Linked DNA regions of Homo sapiens. The protein of the gene in region 4 purifies or fractionates together with the protein of the main gene of each other region. This does not show direct contact. Each region holds a gene or a part of one and is shown on either strand. Other genes may lie near its edges.

Region 1 (3,500 bases), on a different chromosome or scaffold from region 4:
CATTAAATATCTGCTTCAAATAGTGATTACTTGCTTATTTTCTCTTAACTTAAAAAAGAGAATACCATAAAATTTTTAAAAATCAACTTAATAATTACTATGTGCCACTATTGGACTTAGCTCCCATGTTGTTTTTATTCTTTACTTTTCTTTATTGTTTGTTATTCTTGCAAAGTGTCCAGGGAATACAATGTTCTACAAATGTGCTGTCCAACAGAGCTTCCTGGTATGTGCGTGGGATGGAATGTTGTAAATCTGCATTAGTCCACAGAGTAGCACTAGCCACATATGGCTACTGAGCACTTGAAATGTGGGTAGTGAAAATGAGGAACCAAATTTTTAATACTGTTTTATGCTAATTCATTACAATTTGCATTTAAATATCCACATGTGACTAGTGGCTACCATCTCAGATAGTGCAGCTCTAGAGAGTTTTCTGGGGAGCTACAAATTTTTCTCTCGACTGTTAAACTTTTTTTAAGTTTAGATGAAAATTGTTCTAAAGCTTATGTTGGCACTTCACTACCTCCTTAATGAAAGAACACTGATCTACTGTTTTTGATGTCTTGACATCAAAACTATGACCAATTTCTGTACTACGACAGAATAAAACGATGACCTACTGAGTTGAAGAGTGGTCTTTATATTAGTTTTAGACTGCCTTTTGTAGTACATCTATCTTTTATTCATTCATTTATTGCTGCCAATGTCACTTTTACTCTCAGTATATTTAATTTGTATCAGTTTCTCCTGTCTCACCAGACCCTCAGACTCTAGTTTTTTGTTCAAATCTACCACAGCTTAGACATGAGATTACCAAATCCTGAGTAAAGTGCATTTAGTAAAAGCATTTTATGGCATGGAATTTTATTACTTGGAGGGTTTTTTTTTTTTTATTCCTTAGTTCTTCATTTTTGGCTTGATTTAGTGATAAACATAGTCTTGTCCTCCAAAGACAGTCCAGACATAAGAAAATTAACATGAACAAACACTGGAGACAAAAATAAGTATCGTGTGTTTATAGACATTAAGTCCATCAGCTTAGAAGAGGATTTTATCTTTTCTCATTCAGAGGATACTTACAGAGTGCCTATAACATGCTAAACACCATGACAGGGAAATGGAACACAGTAAGAAATAAACAGTATAATCATCTGTTAAGTGCTAAATAAATAACAATAGTAATTGCAGCTACTATTTATTACACATAGCATTGTTTTAAATGCTATGTAAGCACTACCTCTTTTATAGTAATGGCAGCTACTATTTATTAAACATAGCATTGTTTTAAATGCTATGTAAGCACTACCTCTTTTATTCCTTTCAATAAATCTCTATAAACTCTATTTTACAGATGAGGAAACAAGGTTACAGATACCTAGAATCACAAAGCTCTACATTATGAACCCAGTACAAAGAAAGTCAAGAGGAAGGAACAGCTAAGCCTTCCCAAGGGAACCTGGGGAAGGAAAACCTTCTCAAACAAGGAAGTGCTTCCAATAAGTATTAGCAGGATTCTAGTAAGCAGAGAGCTAAAGGAAAAACATATTGTATTTTACACAGGAAAAAAATATATATACATTGCCACAGCCTAAGCTAAGCGAGGGTACAATATATGTATTAGGGCACTTAAGTAACAGATTCACAGAGATGATTGCTAGATGACGAGACTGAACAAGCAGGCAAATGTCTTATCATAGCCTCCCTGGTATGCCGAGTCTGCATATACCTACACATACACATTTTTTATACAATGCACTTTTTCCATAAGTGATGAAGAGCCATTGAAGAATTTAGAACAGGGAAGTGGTGTGACTAGAGACAAGGAAATGGGTCACGAAGTTGTGGCCAAAGCCCAGAAAAGAGTTGTTCCAAAGTACTAACGGGTGGGTGGCATATGGCACTTGGACAAGACATGAGATTTCAGAGAAAACTTAAGAGACATCTCACATTAAAAATGGCTTGACCAAGTATTTATTTTCAGGTACAGGGGGTCAATTTAAATATCTAAAACTTAAAGATTCCACTCCCTAAAAGGCCAAGTGTATAAATTTAAATTCAGAAGTTCCCTATCCTAGGAAAACATATCAGAAACTATGAACATAAATGAAAGGCAAAGGACCTATAAAAGATCCTCAATACATATCCATCACATGGATGAATAAAAGCGAATTTCAAGAGACAAAAAAGACAAGCTTTAGGGAATGACAATAGGAATATGAAGGAAAAAAAAGGAGTTACGACTATAACTGAGATAGGGTAAATCAGAGGTCAAAAAAGTTGGTTTCAAAGGAGTAAGCACTGCCAACAGGGAAGATCAAGGAAACAGAGAATTGAGAAAAAGACTATTAGGACAGTATATTTTCCTTCATAAGTTTTGTTGAGCAGTATATAGTTTGTTTCCATCAGGCTTTGTAATCATTAGTTTTTGCCCATTTACTCCTCTGTTACCATCATTTTATCTTAAAATTAGTTCTTTCCAAGTTTACATGTTATTTTACTTTATAAGGCTATTCATATGAGGTCTTTTTAAGGCAATATTTTCAAAGGACAATACTGATGGTAAAAAGAATTTCATAAATAACAGCAACAAAGTTAATCTCAAGCCATTTCTTAAGCAATGAAACATTCTACCCGTTACATTGTGTTCCTTGTTCAAAGACCTCAAATCTAAAGCACATTGACCAAAACAGGGCATTGAATTTGGTTCCAACATAAAAAATAATTTTCCTTTTACTGTTAAATTGCAGAAAATTAAATCGCCAAAGCTTATGTTTAAAATAAATGTTTAAAGAACTAGTAGGCTCATTTCAATAATAAAAAAGTTCTATGAAGTAAAACCTCAAAATTAAAAGGCAAAAAAAAAAAAAAAAGCCAAACAACTACCAAAACACATAGATCAAAAAACAAGAACAAGAAAACCACACAAAAACAACTTATATAGAAAAGTATTTTCAATAACTTAAAATATTTACCTTTTTTATTCTTTTACAAGGACATCTAAGTTTTACCTTCTGGTTGCAGTTAAAGGGACATTCACCAGGATGACACATCTCTTTGCATCTATGACCACAAGGAAGCTAAAATAAAATCAAAATAAAGCAATTACATACTTACATCTTGATCATACTCTAGTTTCCCCCATACCCCAACAATTTTAAGAGAGTCCATCACACAAAGGGTCAATCAATCCTAGCTAATGGGATAATTTGTAAACTATTTTTCTTTTAGATATAAATTATTTTAATTACACTTATATAATTTAATTATATATATATAATTTAATTATATTTAATTATTCTCCCCAGCTCCATTCCAACAGTACATCTTACAGCCACCCTTGTAGCTAGTTATAGCCATATAACTGAGTTCTGGTCAATGGAATGTAAGCAAGTACAGGTGATTCATGCTTCAGATCATTTCAAGAGTATACTTCCATGTTCTTCTCTTCCCCATGTCCTGGATATGATGAAAGCTGGAGCGGTAATGGAAACCATATG
Region 2 (3,500 bases), on a different chromosome or scaffold from region 4:
GTCTTGGACTCCTGGGTTCAAGTGATCTTCCTGCTTCAGCTTCCTAGAGTGTTGGGATTACAGGTGTGAGCCACTGTACCTGCCCTGTAATTTTTAATTTTTTTTTCCCCTGAATATTTTCTGTCTGAGGTTGGTTGAATCAGAATTTAAAACCCATGGATGTGGAGGGTCAGCTGTATTTGAAAATGGATACAATATACCTAAGTGCCTAAGCACTGAAATTTCTTACTTTCAGGATAACCACCTTATGATGAATGCAGTTGCCCATTTTCTTGAAGACTTTTTCTTGTGGTTTTTTTCTTTCTTTTTTTTTTGAGCCGGAGTCTCGCTCCGTCGCCAGGCTGGAGTGCAGTGGCGTGACCTCAGCTCACTGCAACCTCCTCCTCCTGGATTCAAGCGATTCTCCTGCCTCAGCCTCCTGAGTAGCTGGGGCTACAGGCGCGCGCCACCAAGCCCAGCTAATTTTTGTATTTTTTTAGTAGAGACAGGGTTTCACTATGTTGACCAGGATGGTCTTGATCTCTTGACCTCGTGATCCACCCGCCTCGGCCTCCCAAAGTGCTGGGATCACAGGCGTGAACCACTGCGCCCAGCTCTTTAAGACTTTTTCTTATCCCAGTGCAGAGGTCAGGATTATTCCCGCATTTGAGTGCACTTAGAGGAGATAAGGAATTTGTCTCAGATTGCGAGCCAGTAAATGGGGGCTGTTAAAACCACTAGGTTGTTTCAAACTCATCATTCTGACATTACAGAGATCTTGCTTAGTGTTGATGGCCCTAGCCAATGGGTTAGTTATCCTTTCCAGTGTGTTTGGTCAGCTGCAAATCTGGATAAGCGTGTCTCCTCCACTTTGTCTGTGTTTACCAGTGGAGACCTCCCACCAGGTGGACATAAATGGTTCATTCTTTTGTGCTAATTGGGTGCCGTAATCCAGCCCCTTGGGAATCTGCCCACCCACACAAGGATGTGCTCAAGATTTTCAGGATTCTTTCTCTCTGCATTCCCTGAAGAGGAAATAATAAAGGAGAAAATAAAATCCACCAGTTTGGTAACCTTCCCAGAAAAGGAAATGAAGTTGGTGTGGCATGACTTGTTCTTAACGAGCTTTCTTTTCTTTTTTTTTTTTTTGAGACGGAGTTTTGCTCTTTTTGCCCAGGCTGGAGTGCAATGGCGCAATACTGGCTCACTGCGAACTCCGCCTCCCAGGTTCAAGCAATTCTGCTACCTCAGCCTCCCAAGTAGCTGGGTTTACAGGCATGCACCACCACGCCCCTCTAATTTTTTGTATTTTTAGTAGAGATAGGGTTTCACCACATTGGTCAGCTGGTCTTGAACTCCAGACCTCATGTGATCCACCTGCCTCGGCCTCCCAAAGTGCTGGGATTACAGGCATGAGCCACATGATTTGGTTCACAATTTAAAATCCGTGCTTTTGGGGAGACGTGACAACTCTGAATCCTGGAAATAGCAGTTTGAAAAGGGATCTTGTTTGAATTTTTGACAACTTAAGACTGAGTCTGGATTAATTTAGAGTTTCCAAAACTACCACTGAACCTAGAATTTGGGGATATTTGACATTCAGCTTCAGAACTAGGATCCCACATTTAATAGTGCTTAACTTCAGATTTTCTGTTTTACTTTTTTTTTTTAAAGGAGTCTTGCTCTGTCACCCACGCTGGAGTGCAGTGGCACAATCTTGGCTCACTGCAACCTCCACCTCGGGCTCAAGCGATTCTCATGCCTCAGTTTCTCAAGTAGCTGGGATTACAGGCACGTGCCACCATGCCCAGCTAATTTTTGTATTTTTAGTAGAGACGGGGTTTTGCCATGATGGCCAGGCTGGTCTCGAACTCCTGACCTAGGGTGATCCACCTGTCTCCACCTCCCAAGTGCTGGAATTACAGGTGTGAGCCACCTCACCTGGCCTAAATTCAGTATTCCTTAATGTTCTTTTTCTGAAGACAATCTGGACTTTTGCCTTTTTATAGTACCATAACATTTTCGCCTAAATTGCTCATTTGTATGTGTGTTTCACCATTACTAGAATATAGAGAAATTGGCCAGGTGTATTGGCTCATGCCTGTAATCCCAGTACTTTGGGAGGCCAAGGCAGGTGGATAGCTTGAGCTCAGGGGTTTGAGACCAGCCTGGGCAACATGGTGAAACCTTATCTCTACTAAAAATACAAAAATTAGCCAGGCGTGGTGGCATGTGCCTGTAGTCCAGCTACTTGTGAGGCTGAGGCAGGAGGATTGCTTGAGCCTGGGAGGCAGGTTGTAGTGAGCTGAGATGATGGCACTGCATTTCATCCTGGGCAACAGAATGAGACCTTGTCTCAAAAGAAAAAAAAAAAAAGTATAGAGAAATTGACTTGAGTGCTAGTTACAGGGCTGTGTACACTTATGATTTGTGCACTTTTCTCTATGGTATACTTTAAAAGTGGCTTTTAAAAATGTAGAAAAGTCATCTTCCTTCATGTCTTTGGAAAATTATGCTAATTGTGTTGGTGTTATTAACATTCTATATATTTCCATCTTTGAGGATTTATCTAATACATAGTTGGGCAGGGTTTAATTCTGAGAGATTTGAAATACACTGTCCTAAAGGGTATAGAAGAGAGTTGCCAGGTGGGGCGTGGTGGCTCATGCCTGTAATCCCAGCACTTTGGGAGGCCAAGGAGGGCAGATTGCCTGAGCTCAGGAGTTTGACACCAGACTGTGCAACATGGTGAAACCCCATCTTTACTAAAAATACAAACAATTAGCCGGGCGTGGCAGCGTGCGCCTGTAGTCCCAGCTACTCGGGAGGCTGAGGCAGGAGAATCGCTTGAAGCCGGGAGGCGGAGATTGCAGTGAGCTGAGATCATGCCATTGCATTCCATCCTGGTGACAGAGCGAGACTCGGCTCAAAAAAAAAAAAAAGAGTTGCCATTAATTTAAAAAAAAGTTTTAAGAGTCTGAATTGATGTACTGTTGTTAATATATTAATGTATGATTGTACAGACCGTATTAGAAAAGGAAAAAAAATCAGATACTTTAATGTACTCATTATAGATGTTACTCAAGTGTCATTCAGGGATCATACCTTTTAAAGTTACTCTGATACTTTTCCGTTACCTTCAACTTGAAAGCACAAGAGGTTTTGCAGGCAGAGATATCCATGGTCCAATCTGGTTCCTGTAAACATTCAACAAATTATCTGGACGTCTACTATGTGCCAGGCATTGATTTAATCAGTGAACAAAACATGCAAAAATTCCTGCTCACATGGAATTTACCTTCCAGTAGATCTCAAAGTTCCCTACTCTACTAATCACTGGTATAACCTGGAAAGAATTTATTGTTGGTTCAACATAGCTAAGGAGTGGCATGAAGTTCTGTAGCTGATGTGGGAAGTACCTTGCCAGTGTCTCCAGCACTGGGTTTTCTAGAATAATCCTCAAGCTTTATAGGTTAGGGGGTTGTGTGTTTACCACATCTTGCTGAGACTTGTCTTTTTCC
Region 3 (3,500 bases), on a different chromosome or scaffold from region 4:
TGTTGTTTCTTTCATTGGCAAACATTTAGTATGGACCTAATCACCCTCTAAAATTTCAGGGTGGTAGTAATTGGTGCTTCAAATATTCTTCATTACTTTGTAGCTAACATTTTTTAATGCCTGGAAGCCATATGAAAAATCAAAATTTTCTTAACTCAAGCAAATAAAGAATATATTCAAAGTTTTGCTGTGCCAGGATTTCATTTAAGCTCAATTTTGATCAAAAGAGAGTTGAAATAATTATTAAATATAACAGTCAAGTTTTTAAACCTAACTTTGTTATACTTTACTATTTAAATCTTGAAAATCATGAAGACTTACATGAACTTTGAAGTTTTTCTAGGAAAAGAGGATTTAACAATACTTATAGTGTCACATTTCATTTTAGATTACTCATTTTAAAGTATTTAAAAGACGTGAATGTAAATTTCCTTTGGGGTGTATTTTGAGTCTGTCAGTGTTGTGTATCTAGGCAGGACTTTGAGGTTGAGGTGCTTGCTTTTTTGAAATCATAATTCTCTAACTTGGGCCTGACTGTTACAGGGCCTCCAACACCAAGTGGCTCACGTGGCCACCCAGCTGGAAGCTGCAAGATTACTAACATACAATGCTGCTAGGCTTTTAGAAGCTGGAAAGCCATTCATAAAAGAAGCGTCAATGGCCAAATACTATGCATCAGAGGTAAAAAAAAAAAAAAAAAAAAAAAAGGAAAAAGTAATTCAGCCTTTTTTTTTTCAGATATATACTTATTAACATTTTCTCTTGGGAATGTTGATTGTACTTTGGTTGTTTTTCAAGTTAAGATAACATGGACTTTTATTTCTTATAATAGAAAAGCAAAAAAGGAAAACTGCCATAGGAAAACACTTGAATTCTGTGAGGTCTCAATGTTTCGTTGAGTAGCCCAGCTCAGCTAGACCACCCATCTCAAACTGCCATAGGAAAACCTTCAGTTCTGTGAGGTCTCCATGTTTCGTGAGTAGCCCAGCTCAGATAGACCACCCATCTCAAATCCATGGCTGAGCCTCCTCTGAATGAGGGTGTCATGCCTATGGTGTCAAGTTCGGGCAAAGTGAATGCCGTGGAAGATGATGGGTCCATCATGTGAACAAATCAGATTTAAAACACCAAGAAAAGATTGTCTAAAACTTTCTACTCATACATTTGCTTTCTAGAGCTAACACATTAGACTGAGGCTAGAGAATTTAGCCAAATCACTGGGCAGCTGTTTCGTAGCCTCAGCAGTATCTTATTCATTCCATGGCTTTAAATTCTCATTTAACCTCTCCAGCCCATAAATTAAATATCCTACCTCAACTTCTTTCTGAATTCCAGACTAACATGTCCAACTTCTGCTTCACCATCAGAACCTGAGCGTCATCTTGGCACCCTGCTTTCCCTCACCCCCCACATTGAGTCCAGCATCATTTCCTATGATTCTACCCCTAAAAGATTCCTTAAATGGTGTGTTTGTCTCCCTCTCCACTGCCACCTCTGTACTTCAGTCACCTCACTGCCCTCCTGGTCCCTGGTGCTTCCTCCCATCCAGCCTCTCTCCTTTTTCAAAGTGGCAGTGAGGCCATGTCACCTTCCAGCTTTAACCCTTCAGTGGCTTCTCACAACAAATGGAGCTCTATCTGTACTAGATTCCAATTGCTGCTATAACAAATTACCAAAAAGTCGGGGACCTAAAACAACGCAGTTTCATTTTCTGTCACTTCTAGAGGTCAGAAATCTGAAATGGGTCTCACTGGAATACAGGGGCTGCCTTTCTGTGGTTCTGGCAGACAGTTGTTTCCAGCTTCTAGGGGCTGCTCACATTCCTTGACTCGTAGCCCCTTCCTCCATCTTCAAAGCCAACAATGTGGCATGTTCAGATCTCTCTCTGACTCTGCTTCCTGTCTCCATGGTCACGTCACCTTCCATGACTAACTCTCCTGCCTCCTCCTTTTCCTTATAAGGATCCCTGTGATTATATCACAGCCACCCAGATAATTCAGGGTAATCTCTCCATCTCGTGTCCTTACCCACATCTGCAGAGTCCCTATTGCCATGGAAGGCAGCATATTCACAGCTCTGAGGGCTAGGATGTGGACGTCCTTGAGGGGCCATTCTGCAGGGTCTCTCGCTCCTCCATTCTCTTTTCACATTTCACCCCGATCCCAGCCCACTGGCTGTCTCAGGGGCTGGAAGTTGAAGAGCTCATTCTCCCCTTGGAGGATTTCGACGTGTTGGTCCTCAGCTTGAAATGTCCCTTAGCTCGTCCGTTAGGCCCCCAGTAAACATTTCCTGAATAAATGATATCTCTCAGCATGCAGATTCATGTGAACAATGCTCTAATTTCTTAAGAAAATGGGGATTCTGTGAATTAATAGGATGTTTTACAGAAATGGTATGGAGAATGGGACTGAAGAGACAATGCTAGTTTAGAAGATAACTTTAGTCCTTCCAGTGCCACTAACAGTAAATCCATGTTGCTGAAAATGTTACCCAGAAGTGTTTATCATGTATAAGTTATGTGGTTTCAGTGTGTGATTTGCACTTGCTTTTGGTAGATTGCAGGACAAACAACGAGTAAATGTATCGAGTGGATGGGGGGAGTAGGCTACACCAAAGATTACCCTGTGGAGAAATACTTCCGAGATGCAAAGATTGGTAAATAGATTTTTTTTTTTTACATTTTATTTTGTTTTATTTGCCTCTGTAGGTATTTTGGCTGTTTTATTTGTCGTTTTTTTCCTAGGTAAAAGCAATTTTAATTTCTTCAGTATATGTTTGGTGGCTCTATTTATGTGGCTGGATTTTTTTCTTACCTCGTCCTTCAAAAAAAATTGTTCTATATTTTTAAAAAATATCAAATTGCCTTTTTAAATGCCTCAACAGGCTTTTTAGTAAAACTGCCACAAATAACAGTCTGAGCTTATGCATCAATTGTTGAAGAATCAAAATCTTCAACTTTTGTTTACACCTTTAGTCAGTTTAATACTGATCCTGGACATCGAGAAACCAAATGGAAAATTGTCATCTCTTAGTCAAAATTACTGTGAAATAGTACCATATTCAGGGGACATGAAGTGATGTGACTAGTAACTGTTTTATAGCAAGCGCAGAGGTGATGTTTATAGAGCTATTTCTTGTCTTAACCATGCGCCAACTCCTCATTGTTCCTTCTGCTTCCTTTTGCTTAAGGTACGATATATGAAGGAGCTTCCAACATCCAGTTGAACACCATTGCAAAGCATATCGATGCAGAATACTGACGTCTATAGGAGTGGGACCCCTCCCTGGTGTCACTGCTGTAAAATTTTAAACGGTTGTGTCTTGTTGGGAGTAAGTGCCTTGCGTGGGAATAAACTTCCACAGCATTCGAATATTTTAATGAAGCCCTTAGTCAGGGTCCTGGTGTTGGCCTTTTTGGTTTTCTCTTTTCAGGCTGTTTAACTTAGGCACAGGAGATCCACTTTTAAACTTGGGAAATAAGCACCTGTATTTTTTTCCAA
Region 4 (5,000 bases):
TAACAGGAGGTGCCCCAGATGGCAAGCACCTTGAGGTCTGCGAGAAAGACCCTCCCAGGGTGGGGGCGGCACAGGTGTTCTGTATCACAGCAGCCCCGGGAAGGACCCTCCCAGGGTGGGGGCGGCACAGGTGTTCTGTATCACAGCAGCCCCGGGAAGGACCCTCCCAGGGTGGGGGCGGCACAGGTGTTCTGTATCACAGCAGCCCCGGGAAGGACCCTCCCAGGGCGGGGGCGGCACAGGTGTTCCGCATCATAGCAGCCCTGTTTATTCGCCGGTTTATTTCTGACGGGGAAAGCCCTTAAGATGCAGAGAGGCTACAGCCACCTGGGTTCCCCAGAAGGCCTTGGGCAGTAGGGGGGAGCTGTTGCTCCAGGAATTGGTGTGGGGAGTGAGGCGGTGCCCTGTGGAGCCTCGGGATGGTGGGGAACAGGGCTGGTGAGGGCAGTGGGGCAGGGGCAGCGCAGGGTTCAGAAGGAAGGTGGCACGTGGGCACGTTCTCCTGGTAACTGGTCTACATGGCTGCCGACTGCAACTCCTGTTAGCCACAGGCTGACCCAGCAGCGGCCGGAGCTTGGCGGCCGGGGGTGTTTCCGGTGCTGGGGGCTCACGTGGCCCAGGAGGCTGCTTCCAGCTCATTCCTGCACCTCCCAAACTCTGCACGGAGAGGAGCTCCTTCCTCACGCCAAAGGGTGCAGAGAGCTGCCGGGTGTGAACTTAAGGAAGAACAAGGTCAGGCTCCAGGACCAAGGTGGAGTCCATCAGGGCCACTTGGCTGCAAATGGCAGGGGACGTGGCTGACACAGCGAGCGGGGCCAGGGCGGGGTGACCTGGGACCCCAGTGTCTGACTCGGCCTCTGCGTCTCAGCTCCACTCTCCACCGCGTGGCCCCATCTCAGTAGGCCTTGCCCCCGTCACAGCCCTGACGCCACACCGCTGAAGCGGCAGCTTCTCCTTCCAACAGTTCTAAAAAGGGCAGGAATTGAGTCCCTGTGAGCAAGCTGGGCACAGCCCCCCACCTTTCCGCAGCGGAGCTGTGGCTGGGAGACACAGTGCCTGGGTGTGGGCCTGGCCAGACGCCACCCTGGATTTGGGAGGCTCTTGAGACAAGGCAGGCAGAGCTTTGAGCCACCCCCGTGATGGGTGTGCTGGAATGTTCCCTCCTGGATGTGCTGTACCCGTGGAGAGACGTGAGCTTGCTAACCAGACATTCTTCTCACAGGACACACCAGCCCCTCGGATACCACTTGGCCACTCCCGCTGAGGCCACTCCCACTGCGTGGCTGAAGCCTCGAGGTCACCAGGCGGAGGCGCGGAGATGCCCCTGCATCAGCTGGGGGACAAGCCGCTCACCTTCCCCAGCCCCAACTCAGCCATGGAAAACGGGCTTGACCACACCCCACCCAGCAGGAGGGCATCCCCGGGCACACCCCTGAGCCCCGGCTCCCTCCGCTCCGCTGCCCATAGCCCCCTGGACACCAGCAAGCAGCCCCTCTGCCAGCTCTGGGCCGAGAAGCATGGCGCCCGGGGGACCCATGAGGTGCGGTACGTCTCGGCCGGGCAGAGCGTGGCGTGCGGCTGGTGGGCCTTCGCACCGCCGTGCCTGCAGGTCCTCAACACGCCCAAGGGCATCCTGTTCTTCCTGTGTGCGGCCGCATTCCTGCAGGGGATGACTGTGAATGGCTTCATCAACACAGTCATCACCTCCCTGGAGCGCCGCTATGACCTGCACAGCTACCAGAGCGGGCTCATCGCCAGCTCCTACGACATTGCCGCCTGCCTCTGCCTCACCTTCGTCAGCTACTTCGGGGGCTCAGGGCACAAGCCGCGCTGGCTGGGCTGGGGCGTGCTGCTTATGGGCACGGGGTCGCTGGTGTTCGCGCTGCCCCACTTCACGGCTGGCCGCTATGAGGTGGAGTTGGACGCGGGTGTCAGGACGTGCCCTGCCAACCCCGGCGCGGTGTGTGCGGACAGCACCTCGGGCCTGTCCCGCTACCAGCTGGTCTTCATGCTGGGCCAGTTCCTGCATGGCGTGGGTGCCACACCCCTCTACACGCTGGGCGTCACCTACCTGGATGAGAACGTCAAGTCCAGCTGCTCGCCCGTCTACATTGGTGAGTGGGGCTGGCGGGGTAAGTGCTGGCAGGGGTGGCTGAGGGCAGTGTTGCAGGAGTGAGGGTAACTGGCCGGAGCCAGCCCCGCCCCCTGCCTTCGTGTACCCCTTGTCTGCATGGCCCTGGGGCTGCTGCAAGAGTTGGCAGGGGAGGAGGGTCCGCCCTGAGGCCCAAAGCTGATGTAAGGGACTCCGGCTTTCTCATGTGGACCCTGCTCAGGGCTCCAGGCCGCTGTGCCCGGGAGCCTCAGTGCAACCCCTGCGTGGTGTCCAGCCCACCTTGCCAGGACCAAGGGGCACAGTCACTAGGCGCTGGGTGGCACCAGGTCCAATGGCGGCAGACCTCATGCTCCGGCTGGGAACCTGGCACTTGCCTGGGAAGGAGTTTGATGTGGGATAAGTGACGAGGGACAGAGCCCCAAGGCCACACCCATGTTTCCCTGAAAGCACCATGTTGGCTCCATCAGCCACATAGAGGTGGAGGGACAGAGCCCTGAGACCACACCCACGTCTGCCCGTAAGCACCGTGTCTGCTCCGGCAGCCACATAGGGGTGTGGAAAAGACCGAGCAAATCTGGAGAGTCAGAACTTTAAGGGGAAAAATAACATGAAGCAGCTCATGGCTGCTTCACAGCTATCTAAGAGTAAAGATCTATGTTATAACTCTATGCTAGGCAGCTGAGCTCACTGCCCTGGGGCAGCCCTGGGCCCCTCACTGGCTTCCTGCTCCTGTTTGTTGAGATGTAGGGAAGCCCCATGGCCCGTCCGACATGGCCGAGTTGACCCAGTGCACGGCCCGCCTGACCCCACTTCTCGGCGTCCCCCTGCCTGGCTTGGCTCTCCCGGGAAGGGCATCGTAGGATGGTCACGGGGAGCAGCTGGCCCCAGCCGGACTCTGCAGTGACCTCAGCCTCCTCATGTCCTCCTTGAGCTCTGCTCATCCCAGTCACCTGGCAGTGCTCGTCCCAAGAACCCAGGCGGGTGTTGAGATCACCTCACTCCAGCGAGGGGACGTCCCACCACACCGAGCCTTCCAAATCCCGGCCTGTGGGAGAGTGAGCGTGGCTGGGCGGAGGGGCTCAGGCCTCTCTGGTCCCTTTCCCCACCCTGGGCCCCTAATTCCTGCCAGTGTCCATCTGTGCGGCTACTTAGACGCCCTGCAAACGGGGCTTCGAGGGCCTTTGCCCTTTCGTAAGGGAAAGACAGTGCACTTGGCTTTGAGGGGGATTTTTAAAGATTGATGCTGACCCATATCAGGCCCAGTGGCAACTGCACAGACTCATCTAACTTAAAGAGGCCCATGAGGGGAGTGGGCCGGAGATGCAGAATGGCGGGTGCGGGGCTTCTCCCAGGCACGGGGCCCCACACGGCCCTCCGCAGCCCCTGGGTGGTGCACAGCGGCCCTGACGCCTCTGCCTCTCTCGCAGCCATCTTCTACACAGCGGCCATCCTGGGCCCAGCTGCCGGCTACCTGATTGGAGGTGCCCTGCTGAATATCTACACGGAAATGGGCCGACGGTGAGTGGCCGCGCACCCAGCTGCCTGCGCTGGAGAGGCCCACGTGTCTCTGGAAGGGGGTTCAGAGTCAGCAGGGCCCACTCTGAGTCAGGCCGGGCGCGGCGCAGGTGCTGGGCACCCCCCGGGCTGGAGGGAGTCAAGGCTGGCCTTGGCTCTGGAGGACTCGGAGGATCTGTAGGGGCCTTGGGAGTCGGCCCCAGGGCAGGAGGCAGGGCAGGCAGGCAGTGCCCGAGGCCTAAGCGCTTGCAAAGCCCAGCGAGCCCTGGCCACTAGTTCCCTAATGAAACTGAGATTTTTCTGTTTCTTTTCCTTTCTTTGTATCTTGTGTGTGTGACCCTAGTTTCTGTAAATGTAAGCAGGAGAAAGCAAGGAGGGGTGGAGGGAGAGGCAGAGAGAGACAGAGGGAAAGACACGTAGAGACAGACCAATTCACAGAGACAGATGGAGATAGAGATACAGAGGGACAGAAAGAAGACAGCGACAGGCAGAGAGAGACAGAGACAGATGGAGATGGGGAGGCAGAGGAGACATGTCCTTGCTGACCGCCAGTGCTCTGTGGGTTTGGGCCCCCCATTCATCCCTTGCCCATCCTGCACTTGTGAAGTTTCCAAGGTCCTCTGTTACTCGGCCTGGGCACCGCTGCACCTTGGGACTCTTTCTGCAGATGGCGCCTCTCCTGGAGGTCTCTAGCACTCTGACCTCTTACAAAAGCCCCTCTGGCCTCGGATTGATAATGTGGGGTCAAGTGTGTGCGTTCTGGGCAGAGCCTGGAGGTAGGCTGGAGCTCGTGTCCCGGGTCTGGATGCTTCTCTCAGTCTCTGTGCCCCTTCTGGCTCCGGGATCTGGGCCCACTTTGCACAAAGTGGGGAGGCAGAGCGGGGTCTGGCCCCCGGAGGCGGCCGCAGCATTTCTGCGCTGGAGCAAGCAGGTGCCGCCTGGCTGCAGCCTTGCAGGGTGTTGGCGCTCCCTGTGTCCTCTGTCTGTCTCTGCGGCTCTGCTCCCGGCCTTTGCTGGCCTTTTGCCCTCCCGCCGCTGCCTCACTGTGAAGACACATCCCCGAAAGCCCAGAGCTTGTCCTCACTGTGAAGACGCGTCCCTGGATGCCCAGAGCTTGGATGGGCTTCTACCACTCCACGGCCGCCTCAGCCCATGGTTATTTTCCACTCGCCTTTTCGTTTGAAAGCACTTATGTGCAAATTGCCACGTGCACAACAGTCCCTTCGTGGGGAGCTCTCAGTGAGCTCCAGCTGAGCCCTCTGGCGTCCCTGGGAACCCCATCTGTCATCCTCTGCACTGTGGGGAGGGATGCCTCCTCCCGCTGTTGCCTGGAGAGGCTGCTCCTCTTAGTGCCCAACCCCACCGTGGTCTC

The links.
Region 1: the proteins of SLCO4A1 (region 4) and NFXL1 purify together in Homo sapiens (affinity purification with mass spectrometry; one large-scale study listed by BioGRID and IntAct). This does not show direct contact.
Region 2: the proteins of SLCO4A1 (region 4) and OCLN purify together in Homo sapiens (affinity purification with mass spectrometry; one large-scale study listed by BioGRID and IntAct). This does not show direct contact.
Region 3: the proteins of SLCO4A1 (region 4) and ACADSB purify together in Homo sapiens (affinity purification with mass spectrometry; one large-scale study listed by BioGRID and IntAct). This does not show direct contact.

Annotation. Positions count from the first base shown.
Region 1 is NC_000004.12:47,852,084-47,855,583, forward strand, and holds part of NFXL1 (NF-X1-type zinc finger protein NFXL1), read right to left. Parts: intron 3,081-3,500; coding exon 2,976-3,080; intron 1-2,975.
Region 2 is NC_000005.10:69,499,290-69,502,789, forward strand, and holds part of OCLN (occludin), read left to right. Parts: intron 1-3,500. UniProt on the Homo sapiens protein: May play a role in the formation and regulation of the tight junction (TJ) paracellular permeability barrier.
Region 3 is NC_000010.11:123,050,506-123,054,005, forward strand, and holds part of ACADSB (short/branched chain specific acyl-CoA dehydrogenase, mitochondrial isoform 1 precursor), read left to right. Parts: intron 1-543; coding exon 544-681; intron 682-2,555; coding exon 2,556-2,655; intron 2,656-3,189; coding exon 3,190-3,260; 3' UTR 3,261-3,500. UniProt on the Homo sapiens protein: Short and branched chain specific acyl-CoA dehydrogenase that catalyzes the removal of one hydrogen from C-2 and C-3 of the fatty acyl-CoA thioester, resulting in the formation of trans-2-enoyl-CoA.
Region 4 is NC_000020.11:62,655,137-62,660,136, forward strand, and holds part of SLCO4A1 (solute carrier organic anion transporter family member 4A1), read left to right. Parts: intron 1-1,222; 5' UTR 1,223-1,318; coding exon 1,319-2,114; intron 2,115-3,540; coding exon 3,541-3,631; intron 3,632-5,000. UniProt on the Homo sapiens protein: Organic anion antiporter with apparent broad substrate specificity.